Linked DNA regions of Homo sapiens: region 2 is linked to region 1. The links come from fine-mapping of genetic effects on gene expression. Tissue or cell type: whole blood. Region 1 holds a variant in brackets; the other region holds the start of a gene. All regions are shown on one strand. Distances are from middle to middle.

Region 1 (8,111 bases):
TTCTCATGCTAGTGAATAAGTCTCACAAGATCTGATGGTTTTAAAAAGGGGAGTTTCCCTGCACAAGCTCTCTTTGCCTGCTGCCATCCATATAAGACATGACTGCTCCTCCTAAGCTTCTGCCATGATTGTGAGTTCTCCTCAGCCATGTGCAACTGTAAGTCCATTAAACCTCTTTCTTTTGTAAATTGCCCAGTCTTGGGTATGTCTTTATCAGCAGCATGAATATGAACTAATACACTGATTTATCAAAGCTCTTAGAAGTGCTTGGCATATAATGAGTGCTTAGTGAATATTGTCGAAAGAATGAATGAATGAAAAAGCAAATTAATATCTCCTACCCTGTCTGCTCTTTATGTATCTCCATATCAGTGGTATAATTCTCAATTGTGAGCTCCCGAAAGGTAGAAAGCATTTTTGTCCTTTCTTAGCAGAGCAGGATTTTGACCTAAATTTCTGCAAACTATAGTCTTATGGTTATGACTCTTTTTGTAAGTTGATCACTCATTCACAAGGATGTAATTTGCATCTGATTAATCACAAGACTGATGTGGTCTCAGAACATTGAGAAAAAGACTACTTCATCTACCTGACAGTCAAAGGGTAACACATTAGGACTTGAGAGATAATAAATTCAAAGGAAGTTCACACACAGAAAAATTTAAGATTAAATTGTCATTTTCAGATAAATTTGTTAGGGATATTGGTTCAGTATTCTGCAGCAGATGCATAAAATATTTCCATGCCTTTAAGAATCCATTTGTAGTCTCAGATACCACATGTGTTCCAGGAGTGTAGATGTCCTGCACAGTACTCTTTTATGAGTCACTCAAGCTTCTCCTGTGGCATCAGATTTTGCAGTGATTTTGTAATGGACATTTCCTAATTGAGAAATTATCAGCTATTTTTGAATTATGAAATGGCTACATTACTTAGAAATAGGCCCTTGGGTGCACATGAGATATTTCATTACCAGGCGTAAGATTTATTTTATTAATAGAAAAATAATATAAAATGTCACTTAAAGGATCTTATCAAAATTATGAACCTTCCACTTCTGAATGTCTGTATTATACATCCATTCCTAGGTCACCTAAACTTACCCCTTTGACTCAACCTGCTACAAAGAGCCAACCACTTCCTCTACTCCAGCTGTTTCTTTATTCCAACTCTTGCCCTATTATGTCACTCAGTCTGTTCTTTGCTCTATCTCTTTTGCTCTTAATCACATTTATAGGCTGTATTAGTTCATTCTTATGCTGCTAATAAAGACATACCCAAGACTGGGAAATTTATAAAGGAAAGAGTTTTAATGGACGCATAATTCCATATGGCTGAGGAGGATTTACAATCATGGCAGAGGGCAAAGGAGGGGCAAAGGCTTGTCTTACATGGTGGCAAGCAAGAGGGCATGTGTAAGGGAAGTACTCTTTATAAAACCATCAGATCTCATGAGACTTATGCACTGTCGTGAGAATAGCATGGGAAAAACTCACCTCCATGATTCAGTTACCTCCCAGTGAGTCCCTCTCACAACACATGTGGATTATGGGAGCTACAATTCAAGTTGAGATTTGGGTGGGGACACAGCCATACCATATCATTCCACCCCTGGCCCCTCCCAAATCTCATGTCCTCACATTTCAAAACTAATCATGCCTTCCCAACAGTCCCCCAAAGTCTGAACTCATTTCAGCATTAACTCAAAAGTCCACAGTCCAAAGTCTCATCTAAGACAGGCAAGTCCCTTCTGCCAAAAGCAAGTTAGTTACTTCCTAGATACAATGTGGGTACCAGGCATTGGGTAAATATACCTGCTCCAAATGGGAAAAATTGGCCAAAACAAAGGGGCTACAGTCCCCTGGAAAGTCTAAAATCCAACAGGGCAGTCATTAAACCTTAAAGTTACAAAATGATCTCCTTTAACTCCATGTCTCACATCCAGGTCATGCTGATGCAAGAGGTGGGCTCCCACAGCCTTGGGCAGCTCTGCCTCTGTGGCTTTGCAGGGTATGGCCCCCATTTTTGCTGCTTTCACTGGCTGACATTGAGTGTGGCTTTTCCAGGTGCACAGTGCAAACTGTCATTGGATCTACCATTCTGGGGTCTGCAGGACAGTGGGCCTCTTCTCACAGCTCCACTAAGCAGTGTCCCAGTGGGGACTCTTTGTGGGTGCTCCAACCCCACATTTCACTTCCACACTGCCCTAGAGAGTTTCTCCATGAGGGCTCCACCCCTGCAGCAAACTTCTTGCCTGGACATCCAGGCATTTCCATGCATCTTCTGAAATCTAGGCAGAGATTCCCAAATCTCAATTCTTGACTTCTCTGTACCCACAGGCCCAACACTACTTGGAAGTTTCCAAGGCTTGGGGCTTGCACCCTCTGAAGCAATTGCCTGAGCTGTATGTTGGCCCTTTTTAGCTACAGCTGGAGTGGCTGGGACGCACGGCACCAAGTCCCAAGGCTGTGCACAGCAAAGGGGGGGTCCTGGCCCTGGCCCGCAGAACCATTTTTCCCTCCCAGGCCTCTGGGCCTGTGATGGGAAGGGCTGCCATGAAGGTCTCTGACATGCCCTGGAGACATTTTCCCCATTGTCTTGGTGATTAACATTTGGCTCCTTGTTTTATATAAGTTTCTGCAACAGGTATGAATTTCTCCTCAGAAAAAAAGTTTTTCTCTCCTATCTCATTGTCAGGCTGCAAATTTTCAAAACTTTTATATCCCATCACCTCTTGAATGCTTAGCCACTTAGAAATTTGTTCCCCTAGATACCCTAAATCATCTCTCCTAAGTTCAAAATTCCACACACCTGTAGGGCAAGGGCAAAATGCCACCAGTCTCTTTGCATAGCAAGAGTGACCTGGCCAGGTGCAGTGGCTCATGCCTGTAATCCCAGCACTTTGGGAGGCCAAGGCGGGCAGATCATGAGGTCAGATTGAGACCATCTTGGCTAACAAGGTGAAACCCTGTCTCTACTAAAAATACAAAAAATTAGCTAGGCACGGTGGCAGGTGCCTGTAGTCCCAGCTACTTGGGAGGCTGAGGCAGGAGAATGGCGTGAACCCAGGAGGTGGAGCTTGCAGTGAGCC[G/A]AGATTGCGCCACTGCAGTCCAGCCTGGGTGACAGAGCTAGACTCCTTCTCAGAAAAATAAATAAAAGAGTGGCCTCCAGTTCCCAACAGGATCCTCATCTCTATCTGAGACAACCTCAGCATCGACCTTTTTGTCCAAATCACTGCCAGCATTTTGGTCAAAGCCATTCAACAAGTCTCTAGGAAGTTCCAAATTTCCCACACCTTCCTGTCTTCTAAGCCCTCTGAGTCTCTAGGAAGTTTCAAACTTTTCCACATTTTCATATCTTCTGAGCCCTCCAAACTGTTCCAACCTAGCCTGTTACCCAGTTCCAAAGTCACTTCCACATTTTCGGGTATCTTTACAGTAGCACCCCACTCTACTGATACCAACTTACTGTATTAGTCTGTTCTCACACTGCTAATAAAGACATACCCAAGACTGGGTAATTTATAAAGGAAAGAAGTTTGATAGACTGACAGTTCCACATGACTGAGGAGGCCTCACAATCATGGCAGAAGGCAAAGGAGGAGCAAAGGCACATGTTACATGGTGGCAGGCAAGAGAGCGTGCATAAGGGAATTGCTCTTTATAAAACCATCAGATCTTGTGAGCCTTACTCACTCTCATGTGAACAACACAGGAAAAACTCACCCCCTTGATTCAGTTACCTCCCAACAGGTCCTTTCCATGATACATGTGGATTATGGGAGCAACAACTCAAGATAAGATTTGGGTGGGGATACAGCCACACCATATCATAGGTTAATTCATGTTAACTTAAAGAATAGAGAGGCAGCAAAGTGGATGTAACATAAGCTTGGTGTCAGACTAGATGCATTAGATATCTGGCTCTGCCATTTACTATCTGTATGACCTTGAGGATGTTGTGCAATCTCTCTATACATCCCTATATTTGTAAAAAAGTTTAATAATATCTTCTTCATAGGTGAGAATTAAATGAGATAGTATATACAAAGTATTTGTTTCCCTTCTGTGTTAAGATAGCAATAGTAATATACGTTAGCCTTTCAATTGGATTTGCTAATGTCTAAGGGGGCCTTTTTTGCATGCCTATTAATACTTAGAGTTTTACTTTTATTATAATAATACTCCATCTATTAAAGAGTTAAATCCTAAGTTTTCTTAATATTTTAAGTTCAGCTTTCTAATCTTGTTTATTAATCTAGTATATTTATATAAAAATAAGTACAATCATTTTCACTAGCTTTGATTAATATTTATTGATTTGTACAGTAAAAATAATAAATTAACCTTAATCATTTAATGCTATTTGAATTCATAAGTAATATTTTCATCAACACTTCAAATCATAATTACAATTTCAATGTAGGTAATTTTTTCAGATAATGCAAGTCTATTATGCAGACTTAAAACCCAACAAGCCAGATATTTCTAAACACTTAAGTAATGCTTAGTAATCTAATAAATCAATCAATTGACTCACTTAACTCAAATTCTCATACACTTTGCAAACAACTTAAAAACAGAAAATATTCAAAATAGCAGTGACTGCAAAACATAACACAGCATAATAACATTCCTTAAACAAAAGTCTCACTTGTATTCATTCTCTATTAAATATATATTATACATAACATACATTATATATGATCTACATTGTATAAATATGTAATACACATAAATGTTATATAGTATATATACATTATATACAATATACATTGTGTATAATAAACATGTACATTATGCATAATATACATTATGTACATTATGCATAATATACATTTATACAAGTATATATACATTTATACACGTATATATGTATATATACATTTTTATACACATATATATGTATATATACATTTTTATACACATATATATGTATATATACACGTTTTTATACACGTATATATGTATATATACACGTTTTTATACACGTATATATGTATATACACGTTTTTATACACGTATATATGTATATACACGTTTTTATACACGTATATATGTATATACACGTATATATGTATATACACGTTTTTATACACGTATATATACATGTATATATAATATACATACATAATATAATGTATATTATGCATAATGTAATAGAGTTTCATATATTATATTAGATTACATTGTAGAATATAATATATTATGTATAATATACATTACATACATTATGTATAATATACATTACATACATTATGTATAATATACATTATATATAATGTACATACATATATTCCTTCCAGAAGTAGCTAATTTGCTCCCAACCAAAGAAAAGATAATTACTATTTTAGGTCCGCTACAGCCACTAAAGTTTTACACACAGATTATTATCAGTGATTATAAACCAAGGCAAAGGGTGTTTGTGCTGCTTCCAGAATGATTCTACCCAAATCCCAGGTGGTTAGCAAGCTGGACTTTTTCTCATAATTAAACCCTGCCAACTTCTTCAATTTTACAGAAAATTGCTTTCACAAGTTATTCCTGCCAGATCTGAGTAGCTTCAATGCACTCTTCCCACAGTGCTCCTTCACAATAGGATCACGGCTAATCTCCATATTGCTTGATTTGTGATAATAGGCTTCTTAAATGCTTCTGTCATTATAACCCATCTGCTCACTAACTGGTGAGATTCTGTACTTTATCGTTTATGAACGTTCTTATTTGTGTCAAACCCATATTTCTGTTGGTTTATTGCTGAGTCCAAACCAGATTCCCAGCTTCTGCTTTCCTCCCCTGCCCCCCAGTCTAGTGTCCCTCCCCCAGTCTAGTGTCCCTCCCCCAGTCTAGTGTCACTGCATGATTTCCTGTAAATGCAAACGTACTCCAATAAGCCTGCCTGAAGCAAGAGGAATTGAGCCAGCTATCAAACATCATTCTGGGATTCAGCATCAGTCACCATTAGAGCTGGTCTTGTCCCGACATGGGCTACATGTCTGGTCCCTGGGGCTTAGCCTCTGGTCGGTGTCAAATTCAGGTGAAAGCCTTGTCAGCACAAAAATACATACCTGGAACAAACAAACATTTCTGGAACAAGATTGCTTGGGGAAATTTACAGACGAGTAGCTGGTGTGAGGTTCTCCATTGTTCATTACAATTTAGGACAGCACAAAGAAATTTAGCAGGGCTAGATATCAGACTCAAAAGAACCCCGGCCCTTGGGCTGTGGGGATTTTAAACTGCAGAATTGAGGAAGAACCAGCCCCAATGTGGTCATGCCATATGACACTGCAGAACCCCTAGTTCGGAATGGAGTCAAAACTGAAAAGATAAGGCAACCAGGCTGATTTATTGTCTGGGTCCCTAGACAAAATAAGAACATGATCTTTGAATCTAGAAGGATATGAAATTGGATCCTGGCTATGTACTTGCTATGTGATTATGGCAATGCTACTGAATTACTCTAAACTTATATTTCTGCATTATTGAAATCAACTACCAGCCTAACAGTTAAGACATGCATAAGAACTATGAATCAGGTCTGATAGCACAGAGAAAGTATTTTCCACTTCCTTCTCAGCACAACATTTCCTAAGAATTATTTGCATCTGTTATTTCGACTTTCTCACATTCCAGTTTCTCTTTGTAGTAGATGGACAGAGATTGGTGACTCAATGTCTTTCCTTCACCTCACTGTGTAACAAAAACATGACTGCAGTGAAATTGATTGATCCTCCCTGCCATGGTGATTGGTCTAGGATGACCATATGGTAAGGGATGGTCCAAACAGGAGGACACTCAGAACTGTCCTTTCGTGTTTGAAGGTGGTGATTTAAGAAGGTGCGTTGCCTGGACACTAAACAACATAGCTGTGTTGCTGCCGTGAGGAAAGCCAGCCTCAAGGTAAAACTGACACAAGGACAGAACCAAGATAACCGCAAAGTGATGGAGCCAGAACTCTGATCGCACCGAAACTAAAACCTGTCTTAGTGCTGTACTTTTATGTAATATGAACCAGAAAATTCCTTATTTTTAAATCAGTTGAGATTTTCTGCTACCTATAGCCAAAAACACCCTAACTTGCCAACTTTTCTACCAGCTTCAATCAGAATTCAGCTCCATCACTTCACCAACGCTGCTGTTGTAAAGAGCATCAGTGGCCCTCATGTTGGAGAATCCAACAAATAGTTTTCCTGCTCCTGTATCTCTGCTCAGCCTTTGAAGATTAGATTTTCCATCCAATATGCAAGTGTGCTTAAGGATATTCACTGTAGCGTTGGATATCACAGCAAAATATTAAAAAATAGGCTACTGATACACTGAATACTGAAAATAATCTACTGATGCACACAATTTTATTTCATTTATGTTTTATTATTTTTATCTTAAATATATTTTAATTTTAAATATTATATAAATATATTCAAATGTTATAAAATTATTTTCTTTTAATATTTACACTTATTTCAAACTAATTTTATTTTTTGTTACTTTAACATTTTATTTAGTTGGTTTTTGCATTTATTTAATGTATAAATGTATTTATTGAATCACCAATAGGGGACTGAATAAGCTGCGTATTTCTTCCTTTGAGCGCAGCTGGTGCAATAAACAGGAGCTCGCAGAGTCCCGTGGCCGCGGAGGGGCGCCAGACTCCGGGGAAGAGCCAGAGCGAGGTCCGACGAATCGGGCTCTGCTGGCGACCAGCCCCCTTCCTTTCCTCCCTGGTGGGGCTGGCGGTGGGTGACCACGGCCGCATCTGGGAGGCGACTCTTCGGATTCAAGATGACCAACAAAAAACCCTCTTCCCCAAAGGGTTAGACTGAGCGAAACTTCAAACGGATGGCAGGAGATGAATGAATTCTAAAATGGAAACAATATGAAACACATGCGCAAGCTTTGGAGGCAAGAACGCTGACCTCAACCTCAGTGAAAACTAAAGCAAAAGCAGCAAGAGTCTGCGCGGGGCAAACGTCCTTGCGATGCGACTAGCAGACAAGAGGCAGGAGATGCGAGGCGTCCTACCCGAATTTAGTACCTCCAGCAAATCTGTGGCCCAGCGTGGCCCGATCAACAATGGTAGACCGAGCCATCAACCTGTTTTCCTAAAAA
Region 2 (8,111 bases), 29 kb before region 1:
TATGGAAAGGACCACTTTCTCCTAAGAAAGTCCAATGATACTTATCACCATAAAGAGTGGCATAATGAAAAGAGACCTGAAATAGGGAACAGAAGACCAATAACTGCTCTGCTACCAATGAGCTCTATGCCCCCAAAAGATCTCTTTCCTTCTCTCTGACTTACTTTGCTAATCTGTAAAAAAAGATCATACATACTGATTTTCAAAATCAACTATATTTTCTGAGAATCAGTTGACCTAATACATGTAGAAAAACAAAGTTGTTACAAGTACATTATGTTGCACAAATGCATGTGGTTGCTACCATGTGATTATAGATGTAAATCAGCATGAAATAAGTAACATGTGAAGCATAATAGTTAATCATAGTGGTGAATGTTGTTATTATTACAAATGCAGATCACAAAGAAGAACTGACATCTTACCTGTCTTTAAAGAACATCACTTCTCCCCGAATCGTAGTTATAGCATCAAAGGTTAGCTTACTGTCACACGCTTTTGGGGTTTGTGGGCCGATGGGCTGGACAGGATTTTGGGAACGTCCTAAGGAAAATAAAATACCTAGAGTTAGTTTTGCCTAGTATTAGAAAACTACATAAACAATGAAGACAGCTTCTTCAAGGATATCGCTAATGGCTGTTTTATTTGAAATACATATAAAGACCACCAGGCCCTTGTCCGTAATGTTTTTCCCCATACTCACCATATATGGCTTGGATGCCATCAATGTCATCCTGAGCTAGCTGAACATCACCACTGAAGGTGTAGCTAGGGTACATCAAAGCCCCGATATCAGTAGAATGGGAGAGTCCAAGAGAATGGCCGAGTTCATGAGCTGCAACACGATGTAAGTTGTACTCTAAAAAGGCCAATAAATCAATTTGTAATTATTTGAAAGGTATTCAGTTTTGAGGCATTTAACTAATAAATAATTTACAACTACAAGGACTCATGTTACTATTTTATCAGTGACTTTTGAAATATATGCATGTATATCTTTTTTCCGAAGGCAGAAGGCATGCATTTATTAATAACGAAGAGACATGTTGAAACCTAAACTCTATGATTACATTGATACAATTAAAAGACAAACTCAGCTGACTGAAAGCGCACCACAGATTAATCAATATTATCAATGATTAAATGACACGTACTATTTCACACAGAAGCAAAATGTTCTATTAACATTTAATATTTTTCTTTTTCTTTTTTTCTTTCTTGAGACGGAGTCTTGCTCTGTCACCCAGGCTGGAGGGCAGTGGCATGATCTTGGCTCACTGCAACCTCTGCCTCCTGGGTTCAGGCGGTTCTCCTGCCTCAGCCTCCTGAGTAGCTGAGATTACAGACGTGTGCCACCATGCCTGTCTAATTTTTATATTTTTAGAAGAGACAGGGTTTCACCATATTGGTCAGGCTGGTGTCAAACTCCTGACGTTGTGATCTGCCTGCCTTGGCCTCCCAAAGTGCTGGGATTACAGGCATGAGCCACTGCGCCCAGCCTAATATTTAATATTTTTCTTATTTACAAAACTGATAAATGTTGACTGCTGGAAATTTTGGAAAACACAAAAAGCCTTCCTTTTCTTTAATTTCCACATAAGTTTATGACCGCTGTTAAATTTCACTGTTTTCTTCTAATGAAAAAGTTTCAATGTTGATGCCCACAATTAAAACATCAAAGTTTTCAACAATTTTCTTAATAAAAATTTTAGAGTGGCCTAGTTGTCACTGCTAAGATGTTGTTAGCTAGCAGAAAAGACCGCTCTTTCACTTTTCTAAGTGTATCACTAATTTTCTGAGTGGTAATAGAAAAATATATACTTCTATGAATGCATTCTTTCAACTAAATCAACCAATATTACAATGAAACATGAAGGGGTGGGAGAATTGAGAGAGGCAAATTTGATTGGCTTACCTCTGAAATTGTTGGTCCACCTTTCATCTTCATCAAAATGAGCATCCCCTCCAATACCTGGGCCTGGTTGAAAAGCATGAGCAAGATTTCCTCCAGGTCCATCAAAAGGAGAGTTGTCCCGATGATCTGAAAGAAACAATTCAACAAAGATTCCTTGTGGTTCTTATGTAAGCTAAGCCAGAAGGGCAAGCATTAGCTTTGTTAAGAGGCCAACAGACTTCCATCAACTGTGATGCAGTTTCCCTCTTCGAGCCCATAAAATCAACATTCATCTTAAACAATCAATTCCAGTTGCAAAGCTACGAGATCTAGGGGCAAGGTGAGGTTAAGGTGCTATAAGAAGAACTTACCTCCCCTGACAAAAGATATCATGATGTCTGCTTGACCCTCAGAGACCTTGGTGAATGTCAGAGGTGTGACATTACTCCAGAGTTGGAAGGCTTTCTCAATGGCATGGTCCACATCTGCTCTTGGCAAATCTGGCGTGTAATTTTCAATCCTTAGAATGAAACAAAATAGAGACACATTGGACATGACTTCTTACCACTGTCATGGGAAATAGCTCTCTCACTCTGGCCCTCAGTCTGCCTACCTGTAGGTCAGATGTGTTTGCTCCCAGCGAGGGTTCCCCTCAGTGAGGACAAACTGAGCCACATCAGGCACTCCACATCTGGGCTGCTTCATCACCTTCAGGGTTTCAGCATCTGGTTTCCCAGTCACTTTCAGCCCAAAGAATTCCTGCATTTGCTTCAATTTTTCAACCACTGGGCCACTATTTCTCCGCTTTTCAACTTGCCTCCCATCATTCTTCAGGTTGTAGTATTTTTCCAGGTATTTCTGACAAAAGAAAATTATCGAAACACTGCATGGGAAATCTTTCTCATTATTCTAAAAATTGATGGCATTAAGTTTTAGCCAAAACAGAGAACTGCTTTTAAACCTTGTGTTTAGATTTCGCAGTTGCTTTTATCCTTATTTTTGGTGAGAAATGAAATTTCAGAGTAGAAATGTCCCTACTATTAGTTATTGTGAAGTAAGAACTTCATAGTAGAGCAATTTTTGTAGAGCAAGATTTGCATACTGTTACAAGTCTACAATTTGTGGAGACAAGTTTGGATGTTGTTCCTTTAGTTCACTCTCACCTCCAACTGGAAAAAGAGAGCGTATGCATGGCTAGATACATTTTGGGTGGAGGGTGCTGTTTCTAGCAAAAAAAAAAAAAATCTCTTTATAAGAAACCTATCCTTAAAAAACTCTATTACATTACTGCAGAAAAATACAAACTAAAAATTTACATTATTGTCACATGCAATGCAGCATTTACCTGGACTAAGTCCACATCTTGCTCTTGTGTTTCTAGAGTCGCTGGGAAGCTGTGAGACACCACACCCCAGAACAGCAGCAGCAGCAGTGGAGGAAAGCTGTGCATACTGGCCTTTGTCTTCTTTCTCAGTGCAAGGTAAGTGATGGCTTCCCAGCCTCTTGCTGCTCCAATATCCCAGCTAGGAAGCTCCCTCTGTATATATAGAGTCCTTGCCCTTCCAGAAAGCCAGAGGCTGTCTGACTCATGCTTTATAACATCCTCTTGATTAGCTATGAATAGACTAGGCAATCATTAGAAATGGTGACTCCTAGCAGATTATTTGGAATCACTTGGTGTTGCAATGTCATGATTAACTTCAAACAAGATGTGTGCGAAGGAGACACACTCTGCCATGTAAACAGTGGTTTTCTCCAATTCATTTCTTTCCTATTTGAGAAAGGTTCTTGTTATATACACAGGTCAAAGAGTACTCCATGGTCTTTTTGAAAAAGACTGGTTCTGATGGTCATAAAGTGCTACAGGTTTCTCCACACACCTTGCTCCCAGGGCAGAGGGTGGAATTACTAACACTGCGCACCTGATGGCTGTTCGGCACCTGTACTGACTGAAGTTCAGCTCCCCCAGCACTCACTTTACGGTGGCTCTTCGGGGTTCTCTGAGGTTCCCTTCTGCCTTTGTTAAGCTGCCTGGTACCCTATTGCGATAGCACCATGGCTTCCCTTAATCTTTACTCAGAGCCAGGCATGGTGGCTCAAGCCTATAATCCCAGAATTTCAGGAGGCCGAGGCAGGGGAATCACTTGAGCCCAGGAGTTCAAGATCAGCCTGGGCAACATGGTGAGACCCCATCTCTGTAAAAAACAAACAAACAAACAAACATTTTTTAAAGTTAGCCAAGCATGGAGTCATGCACCTGTAGTCCTAGTCACTGAAGAGGCTGAGGTGGGAGGATCACTTGGGCCTGGGAGGTTGAGGCTGCATTGAGCTGTGATTGTGCCGCTGCACTCCAGCCTAGGCAACAGAGAGGGACCCTGTCTAAAATAAAATTTGAAAAAATTTACTCAGGCCTAGGATTTAAGAGCCTTACCTGAGAAGACCCCTCATCCACAGGCGGAGTATGAGATAACTCCCCACCCCTTGCCCATCATTATCATGGGACAAATAGGATCCTTCCCTGAAACTTGTCTGAATGTACCGGATGATGAAAAGGCTGGAAAGAGACTGAGCGTGACTCTGGGGTCTTATTTTTAATCATACTTGTTTCCCTTGATATGAGTCTATCTTCGCTCCTTGGTGCTAGGCAGCATTTATTTATTCTTTCATGTATGCATTCATTCATATATTTATGCATTCCTCCATTCAAAAGATCTTATTTAGCATCTCCTGCCCATTAAAATAAATACATGGCTCTGTAATGAAAGATGTGTATTCCTGTACTTATGTTCCACATTAAATTGTCTTGGGTACTGGTGACCGGTGTCACCAGTGCTATCTGTAGCATTCCTGGTAAGAAAAGTTGGTTTATCTCTGTAGCTCCCCTACTCATGCCCCACTCTCCTTCCTTGGAAGCATTTATTGAAAACATACAGTGGAGAAACACTGGCCTGTTTTATCACTTCAGCACCTTATGGTGTCTCCCACCTTTCCCACTGTATCAGGTTTGCTTTTCAACACTTTCCTCCCCTTATGGATTCCTGTTTTCTTTCTGCGTCAAGACTGATATCTTACTCATAAACAATACTTCAGTATATCTTGGATTGATTTGAGATAAGTCATATCCTTTCTAATTATTTAACTACAATTTCCTCATCTAAGTGGCATAACATGTGAGTTCAAGAGGGTAAGAAGAATGGGAAGACATTCTCACGAAAAGGAAATCCTCTTCTCAGAGGCATCAGAGGGAGGGTGCGGCAGAGACCAAAGAACACTTGCCACTGAAGTGACTCCAGCACAGACAAAGAAAATAGTGAAAGGGGCTCTTCATATTAGAGGGTGAACATAGACTATGTTTTAAAAGTCAAGGAGTGGCAGATATACTCGACTGTGAGGGAATCTAGTCACTGTGAAGACGTGACAAGCCTAGCTCCACTGAGGCCTGGGAAACAAGGGTGAGTTAATAGGTTAACTCAGGAAAGCAGCATGTGACCATCTGTGATTGGACAGGAAATTGCCTAAGACGTCACCCTGGAAGAGTCTCATACACTGTCCCATCTGGCAAGAGCCTGCACATCCTGCAATGTAGAAGTTTTCAAACTTTTATAAACCTCTGTATCCTTTACTTAAACAAAATCCCTTTTGGAAAGCAAATTTGAAAACCAGGTGAAAACAGAAGTTCTCTGATGGAAGTTGGAAATAGAGCCTTGGAGTCCCCCACAACCCGCCACATCATGCCTGCTTTTTCCTCCCTTCTCTAGCAAAGCTCCCTGCATCTGAGTCCAGAGCTCTCATGCTAAATGCTCATAGTGTTTCATTAAATGTCATAGTTGCTGACGTGGATTGGAAACTGGTTGCTTGAAACATCTTTTCGTTAATTTTTTTTCCTAAAATAAACGAAAAAAATTAAATTAAGTTTTGGTTAAGCAGCCAGCCTAGATTCACATGGCCCTGAATCTTGGAATTTCCAGTTAGGTATTCATGGAAGATCGTCTAATACAACATATGTAACTTTGCAGCTGGTGCTAGCATATGATTTATTTGAGAGTAAAAAAGAAAACAAAAATTTAGAACAGAAAGCTGGGGATTAAATCATACCAAATCCTAGCAATGCCTAAACTTAGCATAGTTTCCAAGAAGTTCAGAACATGTTAAAGTTGTATTTGCTCTTCACATCCATACTATTTGTTTCCTCTGGGAGCATCTTCTTCCCCCATAATTCTCTTTTAAATGTAATTTTCTGAAATTATTCCTTTACCCCTTATGACAAGCATAAGAGGGCTCTCGTGTGGCTGTGTCAGCTGACTCCGGACTATTTCCAGGCAGCCAGATTATTTCCGTGGTTTTCTTGGTTGCTTCATGCTGGCTGCTCTGTGAAAGGCCTCAAACATATTTGTATTTTTCCATATTAAACTTAGTCTTGAAATTTCAATCTTGCTTCATATTTTTTTATGCTGGGGAATTCAGCCGTTTTAATTTTGTAACTCCATTTGAGTGTCAGATATTTTTTCTATTTTTTTGTCCTGCAAGTCTTGAAATGGTCTTTAGCCAGAAACATTAAGTATTTAATGCTATTTTGTTGTGAGAGTTACACGTGGGAAAAATTTGCCCCACGGTCTGTATTCTTCCTACATATGGCCATGCAGTAGCTTTATGGATAACCATTGACCAGACACTTAACAGACACTTGGTACACACTGGTTCCGTCAGTCCTCATGGTTACCTTCTGGGTAGAAATGATTGATCAATTAACCCCAAGTCCCAGGGCACACAGCAGAGCGGTAGTCACTCGTTGAACACAGTTCTGTGCCACTGCAGTCCAGACATAACACATACATACTCTGGGGATAGAAATCTTGCTTCCCTAACAGAGAGAAAGTGTCTGGAGACACGAGGACTGTCACATTAACTCCCTCAAGTCCACAATAATGTCTCCATGCCACCACCCGGTCCCACAGGCCTGAAAGAATCCTCCCCTTCAAGCTGTCACTCAATCTCTCTTATTTCCCTTATCAAACTTGTTGAATTTATAGTTTATACTACCTCAACATAGTAGGTGTCTGCAAATGATTGTTACATGAGTTAATAAATGAATAGATCAATGAAGAAATAGATACTTAAATGACACTTAAATAAAGGGTCTATTTCTCATTAGGCTGAGTTGTTTATAAGAAGTCTTATGCCCATGACTTTTACTCTCCTAAGACTAAAGTTTTTAAAATTACCATGGGAAGAATTTGGATATATCAACTGACTGGACATTCAATTAACTAATTTATTTATTTAGAGACAAGGTCTCCCTCTGTCGCTTAGGCTGGAGTGTAGGGACCTCAAACTCTTGGGCTTAAGCAATCTTCCTGCCTCAGACTCCCAAGTAGCTAGAACTACAGATGTGCACCACCATGTCCCACTGATTTTTAAGATTTTTTGTAGAGATGAGGTCTCACTATGTTGGCCAGGCTAGTCTCAAACTCCTGGCCTCAAGCAGTTCTCTCACCTCGGCCTCCCAGAGTGTTGGGATTATAGGTGTGAGCCACCACACTCAGCCTTACTGGAGATTTTATATGAAGCATAGCACATTTATTTTTGGTGATTTGCATGCCATGCTACAAGCATTTAGTATCAGATTATTTTGAGCATTTTATTAATTTGTTTGTCAATAATATTTTCTTATCTGCATGGTTTATTAAACACTGTGGAAAATGCTTATAGTTAGCACATTTGTGAAACAGATTTTTGCAGCTATAGCTCCTTTTAAAGGAAATTCAAACCAAGAGACTTTCTGGGGATGAGTGCTACTCATACCATAGCTCAGTTCAGCCCTGTCAAAACCGTCCTTTCCCAGCTCTTACATCTGTGAATGTGAATTTGAGATGGATTTGAAATATGTGAGGAAGCTTCCTGTGAGATTTTGATCATGTGCCCAGACTATGACTTGCTTGTTTGGAGTCTGTGACATACACACGTGTGTGGCCTGCAGAGCTTTTAGTCCATGATTCAGAATTCAAACTATATTCCATTGTTTCAGAATTTTTCTGTTTTTCACAAAGTGAAATGTTCTCTAAGCCTGCTACCCAGTTCTTTTTAATTACTCTTAACTACTTATGCCTCAGCCATAATTCTTTCTTTATTTTTTTATTATTATACTTTTTGAGGCAGAGTCTTGCTCTGTTGCCCAGGCTGGAATGCAGTGGCATAACCATGGCTCATTGCAGCCTCC

What was found. PIP is the estimated chance that this variant, and not a neighbour inherited with it, causes the effect.
Region 2: MMP1 starts here. The variant in region 1 is fine-mapped to the expression of MMP1 in whole blood (INTERVAL, PIP 0.98).

The regions. Positions count from the first base shown.
Region 1 is chr11:102,823,909-102,832,019 of GRCh38, forward strand. It overlaps the pseudogene WTAPP1. Among named protein-coding and RNA genes, the nearest start is that of MMP3, 16 kb to the right of the region's middle. The variant G/A (reference allele first, on the strand shown) is at 3,092.
Region 2 is chr11:102,794,749-102,802,859 of GRCh38, forward strand. It overlaps MMP1 (matrix metallopeptidase 1), which reads right to left and starts at 3,412. Exons shown (of 10, transcript NM_002421.4): 1 at 3,240-3,412; 2 at 2,508-2,752; 3 at 2,266-2,414; 4 at 1,916-2,041; 5 at 704-859; 6 at 426-543. The coding sequence starts at 3,344. It also overlaps the pseudogene WTAPP1.